Regions from separate parts of the Homo sapiens genome. Here region 2 is linked to region 1. The links come from fine-mapping of genetic effects on gene expression. A gene starts in region 1. The other region holds a variant in brackets. All regions are shown on one strand. Distances are between the middles of the regions.

Region 1 (9,838 bases):
TTTTCTCTGTGGGGCTTATGTGATGAGAGTCAGCATCTCCTTCAATTCTCACGACCGTGCAAAGTGCAAAGTCCTAATCCTTGCCCCACGTGACAGATGAGGAAACAAGGTACCAAGAAGTCAAATGCTCAATGCCACAGAGCCAGAGAGTAGCGAGCTTGGATTGGAACCCAGGTGGTCTGGCCTCAGACCCTGTCCCAGGCTGTCAGGACCTCTAGCTTGTCCTGGGGGATAGGGGTCCATGGTGGTGCCTACTTCCCTGACACCCAGTGCCTGGCTTTCCAAGTCACCAGCCACAGGGACAAGAGGATGTGGAGAGGCCATGGAGGACAGGCCTGGGATGAGGACTAGAGTGAGTGCCTAAAAAGGGGGCGCCTTGGCTGGGCGCCACGGCTCACGCCTGTAATCCTAGCACTTTGGGAGGCTGAGGCAGGCGGATCACAAGGTCAGGAGTTCGAGACCAGTTTGACCAACACAGTGAAACCCCGTCTCTACTAAAAATACAAAAAATTAGCTGGGTTTGATGGTGTGTGCCTGTAATCCCAGCTACCCCCGAGCCTGAGGCAGGACAATTGCGTGAACCCGGCAGACAGAGGTTGCAGTGAGCCAAGATCGTGGCATTGCACTCCAGCCTGGGTGACAGTGTGAGACTTGCCTCAAAAAAAAAAAAAAAAAAAAAAAATGGTGGGGGCTGTGCCTCAGAACAGGAGTAAGCTCTTGAAGCTTCAGGAAAGGCTGGGAGAGGCCAGGTTTCCATGTCCTCTCTCCTGGCTCTGGCCTCCCTCCCCAGCTGTTGCAGGCTTGGCTCAGCCCTCCTCCTCCCAGCAGTCCCTCTGCCTGCCTAGGGCAGTGTCAGTGCCTAGCTGAATGTAGGAGTCACCTCCTCCTACTGTCCCTGTTTCCTCATCCCCACCCCCTTCTCAGCCACCCACAACACAGCCACTCCCTCCCCATCCCCAGAAAGGGCCCCGGTCACATCGCCAGCGGCCACCTGCTCCATCCCCATTGGGACTTCTCAGTCCTGGCTTCACTGAGCACTGGGCCACACTGGGCAGTCCCAGCCAGAATCACTTTTTTTTTGCTATCACCCAGGCTGGAGTGCAGTGGTACAATCTTGGCTCACTGCAACCTCCGCCTTCAGGGTTCAAGCAACTCTCCTGCCTCAGTCTCCCAAGTAGCTGGGACTACAGGCATGCACCACGATGCCCAGCTAATTTTTGTATTTTTAGTGGAGATGGGGTTTCATCATATTGGCCAGGTTGGTCTCGAACCCCTGACCTCAAGTGATCCACCCACCTCGGCCTCCCATAGTGTTGGGATTACAGGCATGAGCCACCACGCCCTGCCCAGAATCACTTTTTGATTCCTTCTTGGATATTGCCTTCTCCTGGTTTCCTTCTACCCCTCTGCCTGTTTCTACGTCTTCTTTCTGAATCCCCCAGGTCCCCTGGTTCCCCCTTCGCCCTCCACCACCTTCCCTTAGTCATCTAGACTCCTTCCAGGGCACCCCATTCTCCGATGGCTTAAACGAATTAAGTTAATACCAAAGTAGTAATGAGTTCCCAACCTGTTCCAACTCAGAAATGCCTCCCTCGGGCCATCTGCTGATGTGCTGTTTCCGCACCCCACCCCATCCAAAGTCAAAACGGACCAGGATCTCTGGTGCCTCCAAACTTTTGCAGAGACATCAGGAAAGCTGGCACCACCAAGGAAACCCTTCCCACCTCTGCTCACCTTTCACTGGCCAGTCGCATGTCACCTCTTCCTGAGGGGCCTCCTTAACCTCAGAGGCGTGAGCATGCTGGTCCCCTTGGTAAGCTTTCCTGGGCTCTCTGCAAACTTCAAACTTATAAGACACCCTGTGGGGAGATGAGTTCTTGTCCTTTTGTTTTTCATTTTAAAATTTAACATGTGACCGGGCACGGTGACTCACGCCTGTAATCTCAGCACTTTGGGAGGACAAGGCGGGTGGATCACCTGATGTCGGGAGTTCAAGACCAGCCTGACCAACACGGAGAAACCCCGTCTCTACTAAAAATACAAAATTTGCCAGGCGTGGTGGTGCATGCCTGTAGTCCCAGCTACTCAGGAGGCTGAGGCAGGAGAATCGCTTGAACCCGGGAGGTGGAGGTTGCAGTGGGCTGAGATTGCGCCACTGCACTCCAGCCTGGGCAACAAAAGCAAAACACCATCTCAAAAAAACAGAAAGAAACAACATGTATTCAGAAAAGGGCACGTACCATAAATGAACAGCTCAATAAATTCTCACAAACTGAGCCCAACCTTGTAACCAATACCCAGAGTAAGAAAGCTGAACCTAACCAGCCCCCGAAAGCCCAGCACGCTCCCACTCCAGGATCACCACTCTCCTGACCTCTGAACTGTTCTTGCCTTTTTTTTTTTTTTTTTTTTTTTTTGAGACGGAGTCTCACTCCGCCGCCCAGGCTGGAGTGCAGTGGTGAGATCTCGGCTCACTGCAACCTCCGTCTCCCGGGTTCAGGCGATTCTCCTGCCTCAGCCTCCCGAGTAGCTGGGACTACAGGTGTGCACCACCATGCCTGGCTAATTTATTTTTATTTTTATTTTTAGTAGAGACAGGGTTTCACCATGTTGGCCAGGCTGGTTTCGAACTCCTGACCTCAGGCAATCCGCCCACTTCATCCTCCCAAAGTGCTGGGATTACAGGTGTGAGCCACCGCCACCGGCCTGTTCTTGCCTTTTATGTAAATGGAATCATGCAGCGAGTGTTCCTTTGTGGCTGACTCTATTACTCTGACTTACGTCTGTGAGATTTACCCGTTATGTGAGTTGCGGATCATTCACTCCTGTTCCGTTTGTCGTGCTCCTAAGCCCGAATACTCCACGATATTCATCTGCCTTGATGACGCTAGGCTTCCCAATTGGAGGAATTATGAATGTGCGGCTACATGTCTTTCTGTCTTTTGGAGCACATGTTGTATGCGTTTCTGCTGAGTGTAAGGCTGGGCGGGGCGTCGGTGGCTCAAGGGGTCCATGGTGAACTCACAGGAACACCGCTTTGAGCTGCCCAGTGGCGTTCCTATGCGTCTCATCCAGTTCCTCCGCATCTTCACCTGCACCATTTTATTCTTCTTCTTTGGAAAATAAATCTACTTGTGGTTCCAAAGCCTAACTCATCCTCAGTAACCCCGGTAGCTATGAATTCCTATACAAGAGGCTCCCGCAGGCCCAGCGCCAAAGCTGCCTCCCCTGCAGCCTCGGTGACTTCCCGGGTCTCTCCCTCCGGCCCTGGTGTCCCGGGTGAGCCCAGCACACGTTGGGATTTTGGTTGTTTGTTGGCCTGGCCCGACTGTCCCTGTCTCTGAGGGCAGAGTCGGGTCCCATCCCGGGACACGCCTGGGGTTAGCCACCGACCTGCAGCCTCCCGGCCGAGGGTGCGGGGTTGGCGGTAAGGCCTGCCCCAGTGCCCCCCAGCAGCCGGGCCTCCGACTGCAGGCCCGGGTCCCCGCTCCTCCGCGCGGAGTCGGGCGGGGATAACCTTTGATCCCGAGCCCTCCCCTCGAGAGGGGGTGGGGGGAGGAGGGGATCGGGTTTCACGGAGTGTTGGGGGATAGGACTGGGGGCATCCGGCCCGAAGGCGCCCCCTCTGTGCCCCCTCCGGGGAAGTCTGGGATCCAGGCCCTCGCCCCCAGCCGTGGGCGCGCGCCCCTCGCAGCCGGGGTCCGGGGAGGGAGGGTCCCGGCAGGGGGCGCCGGGGAGGGAGGACCAGGAGACCCGCGGCCCCGCCTCCGCCGCGCCCTCCTCCCGGGCGGGATAATTGAACGGCGCGGCCCTGGCCCAGCGTTGGCTGCCGAGGCTCGGCCGGAGCGTGGAGCCCGCGCCGCTGCCCCAGGACCGCGCCCGCGCCTTTGTCCGCCGCCGCCCACCGCCCGTCGCCCGCCGCCCATGGAGCGCGCCGCGCCGTCGCGCCGGGTCCCGCTTCCGCTGCTGCTGCTCGGCGGCCTTGCGCTGCTGGCGGCCGGAGGTAGGGGCGTCCCGGGTCCGCCGCCCCAGCTTAGGGTCCCGACCCCCTCGGCCTCGCGCTCCCTGCGAGTTTCGGAACCACGGGGACTCGGAGTCCGTGCGTTGCCCTGCGCGGCGCCCCCGGACTGTCAGCGCCGAGGCCTCGGCGACGCCCCCCTCCCCCACGGCCAGCTCCGGTCCTCATCTCCTCCCCGGCCTGGGGACTTGTTTCAAAACCGGATTCCCCCACCCCTCAAACACACCGTCCTACCCCAGTCCTAGCAAATCCAGCCGGCTCCGGGGGCCGCATCCCGGGCCCTGGGGGTTCAGGGGCGCTAGCTGGGCTGGGGGACGCTGGCTGGGGGTTACCGAGCCCAGGGCGCCTTGCACTTGACGCTGGAAGCGCCCTCGGCTATCTTTCCTCACCGCTTCCCGCCTCCACCCCCAGGTAGGAGCTGTTGTACCCAGCTTGCGGATGTGAAACTTGAGCCTGGAGGGTGGGAAGCAGTCTTTTCCCCAGGAGACACTAGCGGTCCTGGGATAGGGGCTGGAGAGGAAGAAATGAGAAAGCCAGGGAGCAGCCTGGAGGTTTTTGGGGCGTAGCTGGGAGGATGGAGGGGATGCGGACCTGGCCACCTCCTCCCTGCCTCCCTCCCGGGACAGAGGGCCCAAGGCAGTGGTTCTGCCGGGCTCGGTGCTCAGCGGGGACTGGGGACTGGTCACTTCCACCAACGGCAAGGGGGATGGAGTTTTCCAAGAGCAGATCTGATCGATGGCCCAGACCTTAGGCCCCAACTCTGGGACTGACAGCTCCGGGACAGTGCCCACCCAGCCCGCGCTTTTCTCCCCTCTAACCCTCAAGGCCTGGTCCCTGGGGGGACTGCCACGAGGTCCTCTGATCAGAGCAGCTGCTGGGCGGCAGAGCTATGACCTGTGACCTCTCTGCTGACCCGTGGCTTCTCAGAGCCACTAGCCAGGCCCGGCACTCCTGGCGTCTTTGTTTCTCCAGTGGCCCAGGTCCAGGGGAGTGCCCTAGACCACCCTCAGAATCCGAGTCTTAATCCCTGGTTTAGTTGAGTTCCTTTTAACCTCTGGTGACCGCCTTTGTTAGTCAAAAGGTCGCTTGTCCCAACTAATGCTCACTGGGGGATTCCAGGAAGGGGGCTGAAGGGGGCTGGAGGGGGAGGGGAGGCTGGGAGCTGAGCTCTACAGAGCTTTCTTGACTGGCTGGCTGCAGCAGAGCCCTGTGGAGCTCTGATTGTTCAGGCGGTGCTGGGCACGGCCTGGGCACCTCGTGGGGTTGGAGATGGTGTGGGGAGGCGCAGAGCTCAGTGTTGGCACCAGGAGCCTTCGCAGCCCCTGGGGGCTCCCTGGAGGCTCTTTAGAAGAGATGGAGCTTGATGTAAGGGGAGCGCGGGAAGAGGGCATTCCAGCAAGCAGCAGGCCGGGTGGCTGCCAGCTGGAGGGAAAACCCCGAGGGGCCCTGGGTGATGGGTGGGTGGGACATCCGAGACTCCTGTTAGAAAAGGAAGGAGCCTCAGAGGCCCCGATTGTGTCGATGAGGAAGCTGAGGGCCTGAGAGAAGGCGTGGTAAAACTCTCCCTGGCCCCGGAGTCTCTGCGTTCCCTCTCACTGTTCTTTTCTGTCTGCGGTTTGCGAACAATTTCTCCCTATGTGTGTGTGACTGAATGAACACCCCAGGACTTGCGGGCCCAGTGTGGCTCACTGCTGAGCCACAGAGAAGTTTGTAATTGGAAGGGTTTAAAAAAGCCTCCTAATTGCACACTTCGATAAAAGCAGCTGGATGTCCTGTGGGCCTTTTGTTTCTTTTGGGGAGAAGTCTCTTTGAGTTTCAACAGGTTTAATTTGGTACAGTTTGGGAAGGGGCTTTTGAAGACTGCCTGGCCCCTATCTGCAGCTGTGAGGCCCCCGAAGCCCTGTATGTAAGGCCACAAGTGGCACCGCCCCTGCTCTCAGAGAGCTGTGGGGCCGCAGATGGTGAGCCTGTTAGCTGATCTGCAGAAACTCCTTTGGCGACGGCCGCTTAAATGGAGAAGGGCGCTGATCTTTCTTGCCAAACGGCCGAGAGGAGCCGCCTGTCTGTCCTGTGTCTGTCCGTCCCGTTGGGCTTTACTGAGAGCTGGGTGGGAGGGAGTGGAGAGGAGGAGGTGTTAGGAAAAGACGATTGTGTTTTCTCCAAGGCTTTCTTGGCCTCTGGCTGCAGCCGGGCAGCGTTTCCGACTGATTAAAAGAAAGTTGGGAGGGAGAACAAAGGCCAGGGAGGACTTGGCTTGAAAACGTGTGGTCTGTGCCGCCACTCCTGGAAGTTTCCCAGTCAGGAGGTGGGGGCCAGGGCACTGAATGCATGAAGATGAGACTCTGTGCCATGGGGGTCAGGGCTGGGGCCTCTCCTGCAGCACCCACAGCTCTGGCTCACGCCCCGCTCCTGGCCCTGCTGAGTGCCCCCCAACTCAGGGCTGCATTTGCCACCCCTGTTAGGTGTGTAGGGCAGGAGTAGGGGCACGCGGCTGACTCATCTTCAGGTCCTGGAGGGCTCCACGGGCCTTGTGAGACTAGAAATCAGTTTGCATCAGAAAAAGCCATGAGATGGTTTGGTGGTTTTCTCATTTATAAAATGAAGGGAACAAAAACCTACTTAGGTTGTCTTGAGGATTAAGAGAGAGAACATAGGATAGTGTCTACCATGGCAGCTATATTATTATTATTATTATTTTATTTTATTTTTGAGACGGAGTTTCGCTCTTGTCGCCCAGGCTGGAGTGCAATGGCATGATCTCGACTCACTGCAACCTCCGCCTCCCGAGTTGAAGCGATTCTCCTGCTTCAGCCTCCCCAGCAGCTGGGATTGCAGGCGCCCATCACGCCCAGCTAATTTTTGTACTTTTAGTAGAGATGGGGTTTCACCATCTTGGCCAGGCTAGTCTCGAACTCCTGACCTCAGGTGATCCACCTACCTCGGCCTCCCAAAGTGCTGGAATTACAGGTGTGAGCCACCGTGCCGGCTGGCAGCCCTGTTATTAATGTTAGCTATTATTCCTGTTGTCCCCTTCTCTAGGAAGTGTTGGCACCAGGAGCCTTCGCAGCCCTTGGGGGCTCCCTGGCGGCTCCTTGGAGGAGATGAGGCTTGATGTGAGGGGAGCGCGGGAAGAGCGCAATTCTGCCAATACCCCAGAATTGTTTTCCCCAAGATGCCTCTGCACATTCTACTACTACTGAATTTCCCAGCCAGGCGCTGAGCAGAAGGCCCCATGGGGCTATAGGACTGGTAGTCGTCAGTGCCAAACCCGTGTCAGGAAAGGTGGTGTTCTTAGCCATTCAGTCATTCATTCACTAAGGGACAGCTCAGTGCCAGACACTGCTCTATAACTTGTGGATGTGGCAGGAAAGGAGAGAGACCCAGTTTTTCCCCCTCATGCAACTAGGAGATCCAGAAAAATGAACTGAGCCCTACTGGCAGAGTCAGGGAAGACTTCCCGGAGGAAGCGGCATGCAAACTGGGAACCTAAGGAGGAAAAGGCAGTGGCTAAGTCTGTGGGTAGGGCTGGGAGGATGGGGGAAAGGGTGTTCCTGGCAGGGGAAATGGCAGGGCCAAATACCTGGAAGGAAGAGAAAACACGAGACTTCCAGGGAAACCCCCTCCTTCTACCCACTTCCAGTTCCTTCCAGTTCCACCCCCTCCTCACCACTGGGGGAGACTGTGCTGTCTAGAGACTTCTCCAGCAGCTTCCCTGACCTGGTGAGACTTTAAGCCCGGGCTCTGAGCACTGGGCACCTGGTCAGGGCCGCCTTCCAGGTGAAGTTTATTAGAACAGTTCTAAGAGGGCATGTAGTTATTTTGCCAGCATATTTTATACAACAAGATTTTCCTTTTGCAGAATAGCAAATCATAACAATTTGATGAATGAATCCTTTCGTAGGCCCCATATGGTTCCAGTTTCCTTGTGATGATCTCACATGTGGCCCTATAAGTAAACAGGGTGGGAGGGGGGAACCACTGTGTCAACTTCCCTGGGATAGGAGACCCCCTCAGGCTGGAGGGGAGCTCAGGACTGGCTAAGTCATCTGCCACAAGTCACCCAGCGAGGAGCGGGGCTGGGGCTGGGCCTAGAGCTGGGCTGGGCCCCACCTCCTTTAACCCCACAGTGGTCCTAACTAGAGGCTGGGGTGGGAGGGAGCGAGGCACCAGTCGCCATAGCTTCCTACAGGTTATTTGCGGGTTACTACACTGTGCGGAGCCAACATGAGAAGGGGGTTAGGAAGCTGTGTGTTGGTCCCAATTCTGAAAGTGTCTGGAGAGATCTTGATGACACCCACAAACTCTCTGCCTCTGTTTCCTTCACTATAAGATGTGAGTGTCCTCTGGGTAATTATTATAGGTGAAATGCTTTACATTTAGTAACCAATGTCGTCATCTCAGCAGCCCTACGAAATAGGTGATCCAGTGTTGTTTTGAACCTATTTTTATTTTTTATTATTATTTTTGAGACGGGGTCTCACTCTGCCGGCCAGGCTGGAGGGCAGTAGTGTGATCTCGGCTCACTGTAACCTCCACCTCCTGTATTCAAACCATTCTCCTGCCTCAGTCTCCTGAGTAGCTGCGACTACAGGCATGCGCCACCACACCTGGCTAATTTTTGTATTTTTAGTAGAGATGTAGTTTCACCATGTTGGCCAGACTGGTCTTGAACTCCTGACCTCAAGTGATCCACCTGTCTCGGCCTCCCAAAGTGTTGGGATTACAGGCGTGAGCCACTGCGCCTGGCCCTGTTTTTCATTTTGGATCCTGTTACCCACTGGAGTGAAAAGGTCCTGTGAGTTTTGCTACCTAGGTATGAAGCCCGGCTTCTTGTTTTGGCCTAGAACTCCTCTATGGACCTGCACAGTGCCATTTCTGAGAGTCACTGATGCGTGTGATAGGTTGAGGATGGAAATCCAACACCTGTGCACCCAGCATGGTCTCCCCACAGCACGGGGACTCGAGCACCTTCCTGCCCCACCCCTGCCCCAGTTCACCTGTGTTACCTAGCTATACCCTCACCCTAGCCCTGCAAAGGAGGTGCTGTCATTGTCCCCCTCATCAATGAGGGGACATGGAGGCCCAGAGAGTCCAGGTAGCAAGACTGTGGGTGCATAGCTGCTAAGTGACAGCAGCAGGACTTGAGCTTGGGCAGCTTGGCCCTGACGTCATACCCCTCACCAGCACACTGGACAGCCTCGCGTATCTTTTTTTTTGAGACGGAGTCTTGCACTGTCTGGGGTGTGATCTTGGCTCACTGCAACCTCTGCCTCCCAGGTTCAAGCAATCCTCCTGCCTCAGCCTCCCAAGTAGCTGGGATTACAGGTGCCCGCCACCACGCCTGGCTAATTTTTTGTATTCTTAGTAGAGACGGGGTTTCACTATGTTGGCCAGAGTGGTCTCTAACTCCTGACCTCGTGATCTGCTCACCTTGGCCTCCCAAAGTGCTGGAATTACAGGCGTGAGCCACCGCGCCCAGCCAGCCTCACGCACCTTTAGAAGACTTGAATCTTTAAGTCTAGTTCAGGGGGGGATGCCTGTTTCCTTTGGAGTGTGATGGTGGGGTGTGTATGAGCTTTACAGTCAGAGCTGGATCTGAAGCCTGCCTCTGCAGAGGCTGCATGGCCTCGGGCAACTTGGTGATTCTCTCTTTGCCCCCACTTTATAGAATACCTAGGATCATGTGAGATCATTTGTGCGTTCATTCATTCACGGACATTTATTGAATGACTGCTTAGGGCAGGCATGGGGGCAGGAGGCAGAATGAGACAGTGTCTGGCTCAGACTCATGGCACTAAGTACAGAGTTAATTATTTGTGC
Region 2 (9,838 bases), 22 kb after region 1:
AGGCATCAGCCCGTGTAACCCCTCAACGTGCAGGCAGAGGAACTGAGGCCGCAGATTCAGCAGCACTCTGGGCCTTGCTTGTGAATGGGGATTTTAGTCACTATCAAATGTATTACTGACTTCTACTCACTAATGTCTTTGGTAAATTTTGGAGTTATCTTTTTTCTTTATTTTTTGAAACTGAGTCTTGCTCTGTTGCCCAGGCTGGGGTGCAGTATGTTGATCTTGGCTCACTGCAACCTCCGCCTCCTAGATTCAGGCGATTCTCCTGCCTCAGCCTCTCGAGTACCTGAGATTACAGGCACACACTACCACACCAGGCTAATTTTTGTATTTTTAGTAGAGACAGAGTTTCACCGTGTTGGCCAGGCTGGTCTCGAACTCCTGACCTCAGGTGATCCTCCTGCCTTGGCCTCCTAAAGTGCTGGGATTATGGGCATGAGCCACTGCGCCCGGCCAATTTTGGGGTTATCTTTAATCTCCATTGAGTCCCAGAGGACAAACACATTGCCTTCTTAGAAATTTCAGACATACATTAGATTTCCTGGAATGTAAGAAATACCATCAGAATGGCTGAGAGGGCATTCCTTCTCTCTTTAAGTGCGGGTGCAAGTCCAGACTCCTGGGTATCGTGAGTTTCCATATGACAGTGTCCCTGAAACACGTGGCTCAATGCCCAGGACACCACTCCAGGGTCACCAGATGCAAGTGACTGGCCCATTGTGTCACTTAGGCCCCAGGAGGCCCATTGACTCATCCCAGTGGACACACAGGCCAGGGGCCACATACCTGTCCTAGGCTGCCTCTCAAGTGAGCTACTGAGCTGCCCAGCTCTGCCTGCGTCACTGCCCTGTGGCCCCAGGTGCTGTCCGCTGCCCTCCAGCCCTTCCTGTGTGCTTCCCCTTTACCCTGTTCTCACTGGGGTCCAAACCCCACGCAGCCTGTGCCAATCAGAGGCCAAGCCTGGGCTCCAGGTCACAGTGAGACGGAGCCCACATAAGGGTTCAGGAGGCAGTCACTGATGTGGCTGTGGGGGTCCTCGGGTGAGCAGGACCCCGCCCCAGCCTCCCCAACCTGGGGAGGTCAGAGCTCCTGTCTGGTTGAGGCAAGGGCTGTGGATGCGGGGTGTGGCCAGCAGTGCAGTGATGCTAATGAAGGGATTTTCTAATGAGTTTTGTATAGATTTTCATTTTTAATGAAGGCAGGGAAGGGATAGGGCAGATCAGAAATCAAATCTTATTTACAAGAATCCTCTTAATAGTGATATTTAAAAGATGCAAAAAACAGGGATCACTGACCACCTGGTTTGTCTGTTGTGTTAGCCAGCTCTTTTTTTTTTTCTTTTTGAGATGGAGTCTGGCCCTGTCGCCCAGGCTGGAGTGCAATGGCGCAATCTCAGCTTGCTGCAACCTCCGCTTCCTGGGTTCAAGCGATTCTCCTGCCTCAGCCTCCTGAGTAGCTAGGAGTACAGGTGCCTGTCACCATGCGTGGCTAATTTTGGTATTTTTAGTAGAGACGGGAGTTTCACCATGTTGGCCAGGCTGGTCTCGAACTCCTGGCTTCAAGTGATTGGACGCCTCAGCCTCCCAACATGCTGAGATTACAGGCATGAGCCACTGCACCCAGCCAAATTCTCTTCTTTTGAAGTGGCTTTCTGTGAGGCTCACCAGCTGAAGTAAAATCAGTTTTTGTTCATTCAACAAATCTTTATTGGTTCTTGATGCTCAGGAAGAGGCAGGATGAAAGCCATGAGCAGGCAGGCAAGCCCAGGCCAGCCCTCCTGGCAGCAGTCGAGGGTGTGAGGCCCTGAGGGTCCATAGGGCCCAAAGGAGGGGGTATCAGCTCCCTGAGTGGGTGAGAGGCTCAGAGAGGACTGCAGGGAGAGGCCGACCTCTCCGCAACCATGGGCTGTAGCCAAGCAGGGGTTAAGCAGCCTGCAGCTTCAACAAGGACGTGTTTGGGGTGGTCAGAAGATGGCAGCTTTGATGTTTTCCCATCATGAATCATCTTGACTCTAGGTCTCCACCAAGGCCCGACATTCCTTGGGATCCAGATCTAAATCCACCTAAAACTTTGGATTAGATTAAACCCACATGTCCTTCAGCGTCTTTTGGAGGAATCTGGACACATCCAGTGAAACCTAAAGCAAGTCCCAAGCTGACATTTTCCAGCCCAGCATTTCTCTAACCCCTTCTTTATTTTGCAAATCTCACTGAGAGCCTGCTAGGTGCCAGGCTCCGTTCTGGTGAGTGGGGATCAATCGGTGAACGAAATATGCAAGTCCCCTGGCCTCGTGGAGGCGGCATTCTATAGGGGATGCAGAATGCAAAGAAAGTAATAAGTCCGTCTGATGGTTTGTAGGAAGGCAGGATGTGCCGTGGGGGAAACAGGGAGGCATAGGGGCTTCTGCTCATGGTGGGTTTATAATTTTAGAGCCGTGGGGTTGGCCTCACTGTGCCAGGACCTGAATGGGGCGTGGGCAGTATGGAAAGTGGGAAGAGCATCCCAGGCCGAGGGAACAGCCAGCGCAAGAGCCCAGAGGAGAGGGTGTGTACAGCAAGGCGGCCAGGGTGGCTGGAGTGGAGCCAGCAACGGCCAGTCCCAGGGAGGAAGCACCAGATACAAGGGTAACCAGGTGGCTGAGGGGGCCATGAGATAGAGGCTGGGGTGTTGGGGGTGAGCCTGAGGCAGCTGGACACCCTGAGGTGCCTGGGACACTTGATTGCTTCCACCTTTTGGATGTTGTAAATAATATTGCTGTGAGGCCGGGCGCAGTGGCTCACGCCTATAATCCCACCACTTCGGGAGGCTGAGGCGGGCAGATCACTTGAGGTCAGGCGTTTGAGACCATCCTGGCCAACATGGCAAGATCTCATCTCTACTAAAAATATAAAAAATTAGCTGGGCATGGTGGCAGGTGCCTGTAATCCCAGCTGCCGGTGAGGCTGAGGCAGGAGAATCACTTGAACCCAGGAAGCGGAGGTTGCAGTGAGCCCTGATCGCAACATTGCACTCCAGCCTGGGCGACAGAGCAAGACTCCATCTCAAAAACAAAACAAAACAAAACAAAAAACAACAACAAACTGCTGTGAACATGGGTGTGCAAGTATCTGTTTGAAACCATGCTTCAGTTCTTTGGATATTTACCCAGAAGTGGAATTGCTGGGTCCTATGATTATTCTATTTTTAATTTTGGGAGGAACTGTGCTCCACGGCAGCTGCACCCTTTTCCATTCCCACCAGCAATGCACACGGGTTCCAGCATCTCCACATCCTCACCAACACTTGTGATTTTCTGGCTAGCCAATAGTTTTTGAATGGATGCACGCATGGCTGGTGGCTCGCTCTGGCAGTTTAGTGAAACGCCGTTATTTGCAAATCCACCGAAAGCATGAGTGAAATGTGTGCTAGCTCAGCTCGGTAATTCCATCCTGGAGCCTGAAGGCAGTTTTGAGACACACGGGCAGCCGGGTTCAGACCTCCAGTCCCCCAGGGAAGGTTGGGGGAAGGTGCACTGGCAGCTGCCATTTTTGTGCAGAGGTGGCCTGGCTGGCAGTGCAGGGAAGCTGGGGAGGCCCCCACCCTCTCTCCTGGAGGCACGAGTTGGGTGGCTCTTCCTGCCCTTGCTGGCTTTGGCTGGAGCTGGGGTTATTTTGGGTCTGGTCAGGGGCCACCCGTGACACACTCCTCTCCTGCTCATTGCCTTTGGAGCCCGCCCACGCCAGCCCCTAGCTGTCACAGCCTCATGGTTGTGTTGGAGGAGCTGATTTTGGCAGGTCGAGGACCTCTCCCCAGAGCCCCGGCAGGGCTGGGAGGTGTGGGCTTTGCAGCTAGGTGCCACTGCAGCCACCATCCCTCCCTCTGGGGCCTTGGGCAGGCTACCCAACAGGACTCTCAGAAGCTGTTTGCTCTGAGCCTGGAAGATGGAACGAGCACTGAGAAGAGCTTGACCTGATAAAGGGGTGGAAGGTTGGGCCCAGAGTCAGCCCCCCGCCGCTTTTTGGTTTTCAAATCAGCAGGAACATTGTGCGGGTGAAGCCTAGTGCTCAGAGGAGTGACGCGGCCACTCTGGTGACAAAACTGGGCCTCCTGGCTCTGACTCCAGACACCATACTACATTCTGTCTTTCTTTTTTTAAAAAAAGAGGCCAGGCATGGTAGCTCACGCCTGTAATCCCAGCACTTCGGGAGGCTGAGGCGGGGGGATCACCCGAGCTCAGGAGTTCCAGACCAGCCTGGCCAACACAGTGAAACCCCGTCTCTACAAAAATAGAAAAGTTAGCCAGGTGTGGTGGCGCATGCCTGTAGTCCCAGCTACTGGGGAGGCTGAGGCAGGAGAATCGCTTGAACCCGAGACGCAGAGGCTGCAGTGAGCTGAGATCACACTACTACACTCCAGCCTAACTCCATCTCAAAGAAAGAAAGAAAGAGAGAAAGAGAGAAAGGGAAAGAGAGAGAGAGAGAGAAAGA[A/AAGAG]AAACAGAGAGAAAGAAAGAAAGAGGAAGAGAAGGAAAGAGAGAAAGGGAGAAAGAGAGAGAGAGAGAGAAAGAGAGAAAGAAAGAAAGAGAGAAAAAGAAAAGAAAAGAAAGAAAGAGGGTCTTACCATGTTGCCCAGACTGGTCTCGAATTCCTGGGCTCAACTGGTCTTCCCACCTCATCCTCTCAATGTGCTGGCATTACTGGTGTGAACCACTGTGCCCGGCCAAGCCTTTCTAACTAAATGCTAATTGAGCTCCTTCTGTATGCCACTGGGGCACTGTGTATTTCTCTCTCTGTGTCTGTGGGAGCAGGGAAGGGGAGGCTCAAAGGTGAGAGCACCCCCACCCCCGAGGATCTCGTGCCCTGGGCCCCCTGCGCACAGAGCCTTGGCCCAGCCCACCCCTCACCCACAGGATGGTGCAGGAGCAGTGCTGCCACAGCCAGCTGGAGGAGCTGCACTGTGCCACGGGCATCAGCCTGGCCAACGAGCAGGACCGCTGTGCCACGCCCCACGGTGACAACGCCAGCCTGGAGGCCACATTTGTGAAGGTGAGAGCCAAAGACCATGTGGGGTCGCTGCCCGTCCCCACTAGTCGGCAGACCCAGGCCCTCCCAGCCAAGCGGCACTGTCTGTCAGCGCTCCCTGCCTCAGGCCACCTTTCTTTGTGAGCAGCTGGGGGTTCCTGGGCCAGGAGGGAGGTGGAAAACCCCACTGTTTCTCCCCCTCCACTGTAGCCGTAAACCCCGGAGGACACCTGGGGCCGAGTCTCCCACGAGGCCGGGGGGTGAAGTGAGCTGGCCTTGCCCTGAGAACCGCCTGTCTCCAGGCATTGGGCAGATGCAGAAGTCAAAGCAGGGCTCCTCCTGGGCTTCCAGAATCTTCTTCTCAATTCAGGGTCGGCACCCTCACCCTACCCAGGAGGCTCTCAGGCTTCTCTACCCACAGACTCGTCAGGGTCCAGAGGTAAAAATGGGCCCTCACTAAGACCTCTGATAAGATCTGACCTCTATAACGACCCTAAAAGAGGAAACTGAGGTTCAGAGAGGCCCAGCCTCCAAAATGGCCTCTCTGCAGTCCTGTCAGGGACCCAGACGGGATCCTGCCCTGAAGGTAAGCTGTGAATAAATGGCATAGTCCTCTTCCCTGAGTGCTCCTAGGACCCTACGTGCTAGCAGGTCACTCAGGACCGCTATGGCCGTGGAAGGGCTGTGTCTTTGCAAGAGGTGGAAAGGTGCCTGACAGCATTGCCTACAGGCAGTAAACCCAAGGTGTCCAGGCCATCCCTCCCTTACCACCCAGCCAGCAAGGAAAACAAGCCCGGCCAGGAGGAACTTGGGCCTGGAGGAGCTCGGGTTTGGAAGCTGGGCTTCTGTTGGAGGTGCCAGATGACGAAAATGCATTCCCTGGAAGAAGCTTCCCGTTCCTTTTAGGAAGGTGATGGAATAATTTTAAGAAACAAGAATCTGAATGAAGTCTGGATTCCAGGAGAGGGTGTGGGAGCTCCTTTGTGGGGATTCTCCACATAGATTGGGCTGTGGAGGGACTCCGTGTGGAGGAGTTGGGGGTCCCGAGTCCCCTGCCCACCTTGGCCTGTGTGGGCTTTCACAGGGCAGGGCTCTGGCCCAGGAGAGAGCTGGGTGGGGTGATGGTGGGGGTGCCTGGGAACCAGGACTTTGGGCGTTTCATGACTGCCCCCGCACCCTCCCACCCAACACCCAATGCAGGGCTGGGCCTTGCAGATGCCGTCGGTCCGGCACACAGCTGTGCCCATGTCCCCAGACTTGAGAGGTGTGGAAAAAGCACAGAACATTCTAGCAGGAGTGGGAACAGATCTCTCTGGCAGATGAGCGACTTGTGTTTCCAGGAAGGATTACTCACACCCCAAAAGATGGATGAGGTGACTGATGCTCCCTACACTTTCTGGCAGCGGAGGGCGTAGAATAAGCAGCCTGGAAGACCCATCAGTGCCACATAACTGAGGCAAAGCTACACCTCCTGGCTCCTGCTGGGGACTGTTTAGAAAGTTCTGTGCTCCTCTTAGGATAACCACTTAATAAAGACTGAAGCAGGGCTTTTCGTGTGTCAGGGCAAATGTTGCTTCTGGGACTCAGGTGTGAGGCCACAGGGACTTGGAAGTAACTATTGGGACCTGGGCCCAGGTGGCAGACAGCCACCCTGTCCTTTGACCTTGCTTGATGACTCGTCTTGAAGTTCCTGTGCTTTCAAATGCACGGTGCAATTCCTGCTGCCAGAACCCCTCTAACTCAAAAACGGAGAGGCAGCATGCATGTGTGTCATTTTTCCGGGCATGGTAGAGAAATCTCAGACCATGCAAAAGGAACAGAACTTTGGAGCTGGTGCATGGTGCTATAAGAAGCTCCCTCTTCCTGGATGTGTGCGAGCAGAGCCGGGTGGTCTCTGGGCGGGGCAGGGATGTTGAGGGGTGCAATTGCATGTTGGGGTGGGGAGGGGAGGTGGATGCCAGGCCCTTTAAGCTTCCTTTCAAAACTGGGACCTAGATGATTTGGAGTAGGGGGATGGCCTTGCTTTGCTATTTGTTGCTGACATTTAGAAGTGGTATCTAAGCCAGACTTGAGTCATCACTCTACAGGTTGTGTGGACAGGGGGCTCAGAGAGGCCTCCCCTGAGGCCTCTCGTGGACCCCGCTGGGCTGTCTGCCCGCTCCTCCATCTGGGATCTCCACCTGTGTTTGCAGAGGTGCTGCCATTGCTGTCTGCTGGGGAGGGCGGCCCAGGCCCAGGGCCAGAGCTGCGAGTACAGCCTCATGGTTGGCTACCAGTGTGGACAGGTCTTCCAGGCATGCTGTGTCAAGAGCCAGGAGACCGGAGATTTGGATGTCGGGGGCCTCCAAGAAACGGGTAACTTTCCCCCTTCCTTCCCTAATGAGCAGTGTATTAAGGTTCTCCGGGATGTGTATATAGAGCGAGAGTGGAGAGAGAGAGATTTTAAGGACTTGGCTCATGTGATCGTGGGGCTGGCAAGTCCAAAATCTGCAGGGCAGGCCTTCAGGCTGGAGCCCCAGGGAAGGAGGGGCATTGCAGCTGGAGTTCAAAGGCAGTGTGCTGGCAGAACGCCGCCTTTCCCGGGGAGGCCAGTCTTTTTTCTCTGAAGGCCTTCTGCTGATTGAGTGAGGCCCACCCATGGTATGAAGATGATCTGCTTTTCTCAGCATCAACAGACTTACATGTTAATCTCTTTTTTTTTTTGAGACAGAATCTCTCTCTGTCACCCAGGCTGGAGTGCAGTGCAGTGGTGTGATCTTGGCTCACGGCAACCTCCGCCTCCCGGGTTCAAGTGATTCTTGTGCCTCAGCCTCCCGAGTAGCTGGGATTACAGGTGTACACTACCACACCTGGCTAATTTTTGTATTTTTAGTAGGGATGGGGTTTCACCATGTTGGCCAGGCTGATCTGGAACTCCTGACCTCAGGTAATCCACCTGCCTCAGCTTCCCAAAGTGCTAGGATTACAGGTGTGAGCCATCGTGCCTGGCCAATATTAATCTCTAAAATATAGCTTCACAGCAACATCCAGGCTAGTGTTTGACTAAATATTTGAGTACCATACCCCAGCCCAATTGACACTTACGATGAACCATTACAGGTAACACGTGCATCCGTGTCACCATTGCCTTAACTCAGCACGGACTAACTCCGGTTGTCGGAGCCATTCATGTTTGTGACCTTATCTGAAAGCCGCTGTCCTGGAGTGACGCTGAGTGCTTGGAGTCTGGGATCGGACAAATCTGTGCTCCCATCCGGGTCCTAATGTGTACCTTGGTCCCCTCATCTGGGAAGTGGGGATAGTTGCAGTCCTACTTCATCAGGTGCTGGGAGGATGGAGTGCGAGATTGGGTGTCAAGGGTTGGGTAGAGCACCTGGCCCCATAAATGTCTGCCCTCACCATCTGCCCTTGTCCCTTCAGCTGCCCGGGGCAGCATGGGTGGCTGGCCTTGCTCCCACTTCTTGGGTGAGGGTCTGATGCTGAAGATCGCACAGCCGACACGTGGAGGAGGGAGAGCCTGGCCTTCCACCTCCTGGCCAGTGCCCTCTCCATCTGGAGCTGACGATGTATGGGCGAGCAGCTGGGGGCCATCGCTGGCTAATAGCTGGCTATGCTCTGTCAAATCATAGACACTTACTCAGCAAAGGGGCATGTGACCCCAAGAGCAGCTTCAAGAGCGCTCTCAGCTGTGTGCCCCCCCGTTCTGTGTCCTCGCCCTGCATTTCTGTGTGGTTCAGTTACAGGGTTCAGGAGACTTTGTGGCTGTCCAGTAGCCTCTTACACTTAGGCCACGGTTTCTTGTGCTGTAACAGAATTAACCTGGAAGAAGGCAGGACTCCGCCTGGGCCAAGCTTGCTGTGTAGTTTTCGGCCTGTTCCCTCCTCTCTCTGAGCTTTGCCCCCACTCTCTTAAAAAATAAAAGAGGTGTGAGCTGGGCACGGTGGCTCACGCCTGTAATCCCAGCACTTTGGGAGGCCGAGGCAGGCGGATCACCTGAGGTCAGGAGTTCGAGACTAGCCTGGCCAACATGGGGAAACCCTGTCTCTACTAAAAATACAAAAATTAGCTGGGCGTGGTGGCGGGCGCCTGTAATCCCAGCTACTTGGGAGGCTGAGGCAGGGAGAATCGCTTGAACCTGGGAGGCGGAGGTTGCAGTGAGCCGAGATGGCGCCATTGCATTCCAGCCTGGGTGACAGAACGAGACTCAGTCTCAAAAAAAATAATAAAATAAATAAAGAGGTGGGGAGGTGCCGGAAGGGGCGAAAGGGAAGAACCCTCAGACCTGTAGTCTCTAAGTCAAGGTAATGGCTGTAGGGTCCTGGGTGACACGGAACCTTTCACTTCTTGTTCTTAGGTTTTCAAGTCCAGGCTGTAGGGCCCCTGGTCACAGAGGACCCGGGTCACCCGGGACTCATCTTTCACTTATTGTTCTTAGTTTTTCAAGTCCAGGGCCCCATGGATGCCACTGAGATGATTTCAGATGTTACAGTCATCAAGAGGGATTGGGGCCGCATTCTGCCTCATTCCTTGGCTTTTGAAATCAGAGACGACATTTTCACTTTAAACAAACCCAAACCATTCCTGCTGGTGGAGGATTTCTCCTGCATCTCGGGGGTGGATTTTCACTGATTTATGTCTGCAGCGTGAGCAGTCTCTGGGCTTTTCTGCAGCTCCAGATGTTAGATGTTTTATCTCTCCGTCTTTTATCTGCTTCAGTCCTTGCCCCAGACTATCCTCGCATGCTCCCTCCTCTGGGAGGGCTTCCTGTCTTCACAGCCGCACCTTCCTCCCACTGCTACCAGTGCCATGGACCCACTGTATGTTTCCTGGGGGCCATGCAG

Alleles and levels. Positions count from the first base shown, and alleles are read on the strand shown. Sizes are in standard deviations (SD) of each study's normalised expression.
In carriers of allele AAGAG in region 2, the expression in prefrontal cortex of the gene that starts at base 3,822 in region 1 tends to be higher than with A alone (moderate effect, 0.43 SD a copy in ROSMAP).

What was found. PIP is the estimated chance that this variant, and not a neighbour inherited with it, causes the effect.
Region 2: its variant is fine-mapped to the expression of FBLN1 in prefrontal cortex (ROSMAP, PIP 0.93).

What each region holds. Positions count from the first base shown.
Region 1 is chr22:45,499,062-45,508,899 of GRCh38, forward strand. It overlaps FBLN1 (fibulin 1), which reads left to right and starts at 3,822. Exons shown (of 17, transcript NM_006486.3): 1 at 3,822-4,003. The coding sequence starts at 3,925. LOC105373066 (a long non-coding RNA gene) reads right to left here and starts at 1,926. Exons shown (of 3, transcript XR_938305.2): 1 at 1,735-1,926. RefSeq lists enhancers at 197-833, 4,436-5,049, 5,050-5,663, 5,664-6,277, 6,278-6,891 and 1 more.
Region 2 is chr22:45,520,658-45,530,495 of GRCh38, forward strand. It overlaps FBLN1 (fibulin 1), which reads left to right. Exons shown (of 17, transcript NM_006486.3): 3 at 4,886-5,021; 4 at 7,190-7,352. Among named protein-coding and RNA genes, the nearest start is that of FBLN1, 23 kb to the left of the region's middle. RefSeq lists enhancers at 3,590-4,141, 7,882-8,432. The variant A/AAGAG (reference allele first, on the strand shown) is at 4,470.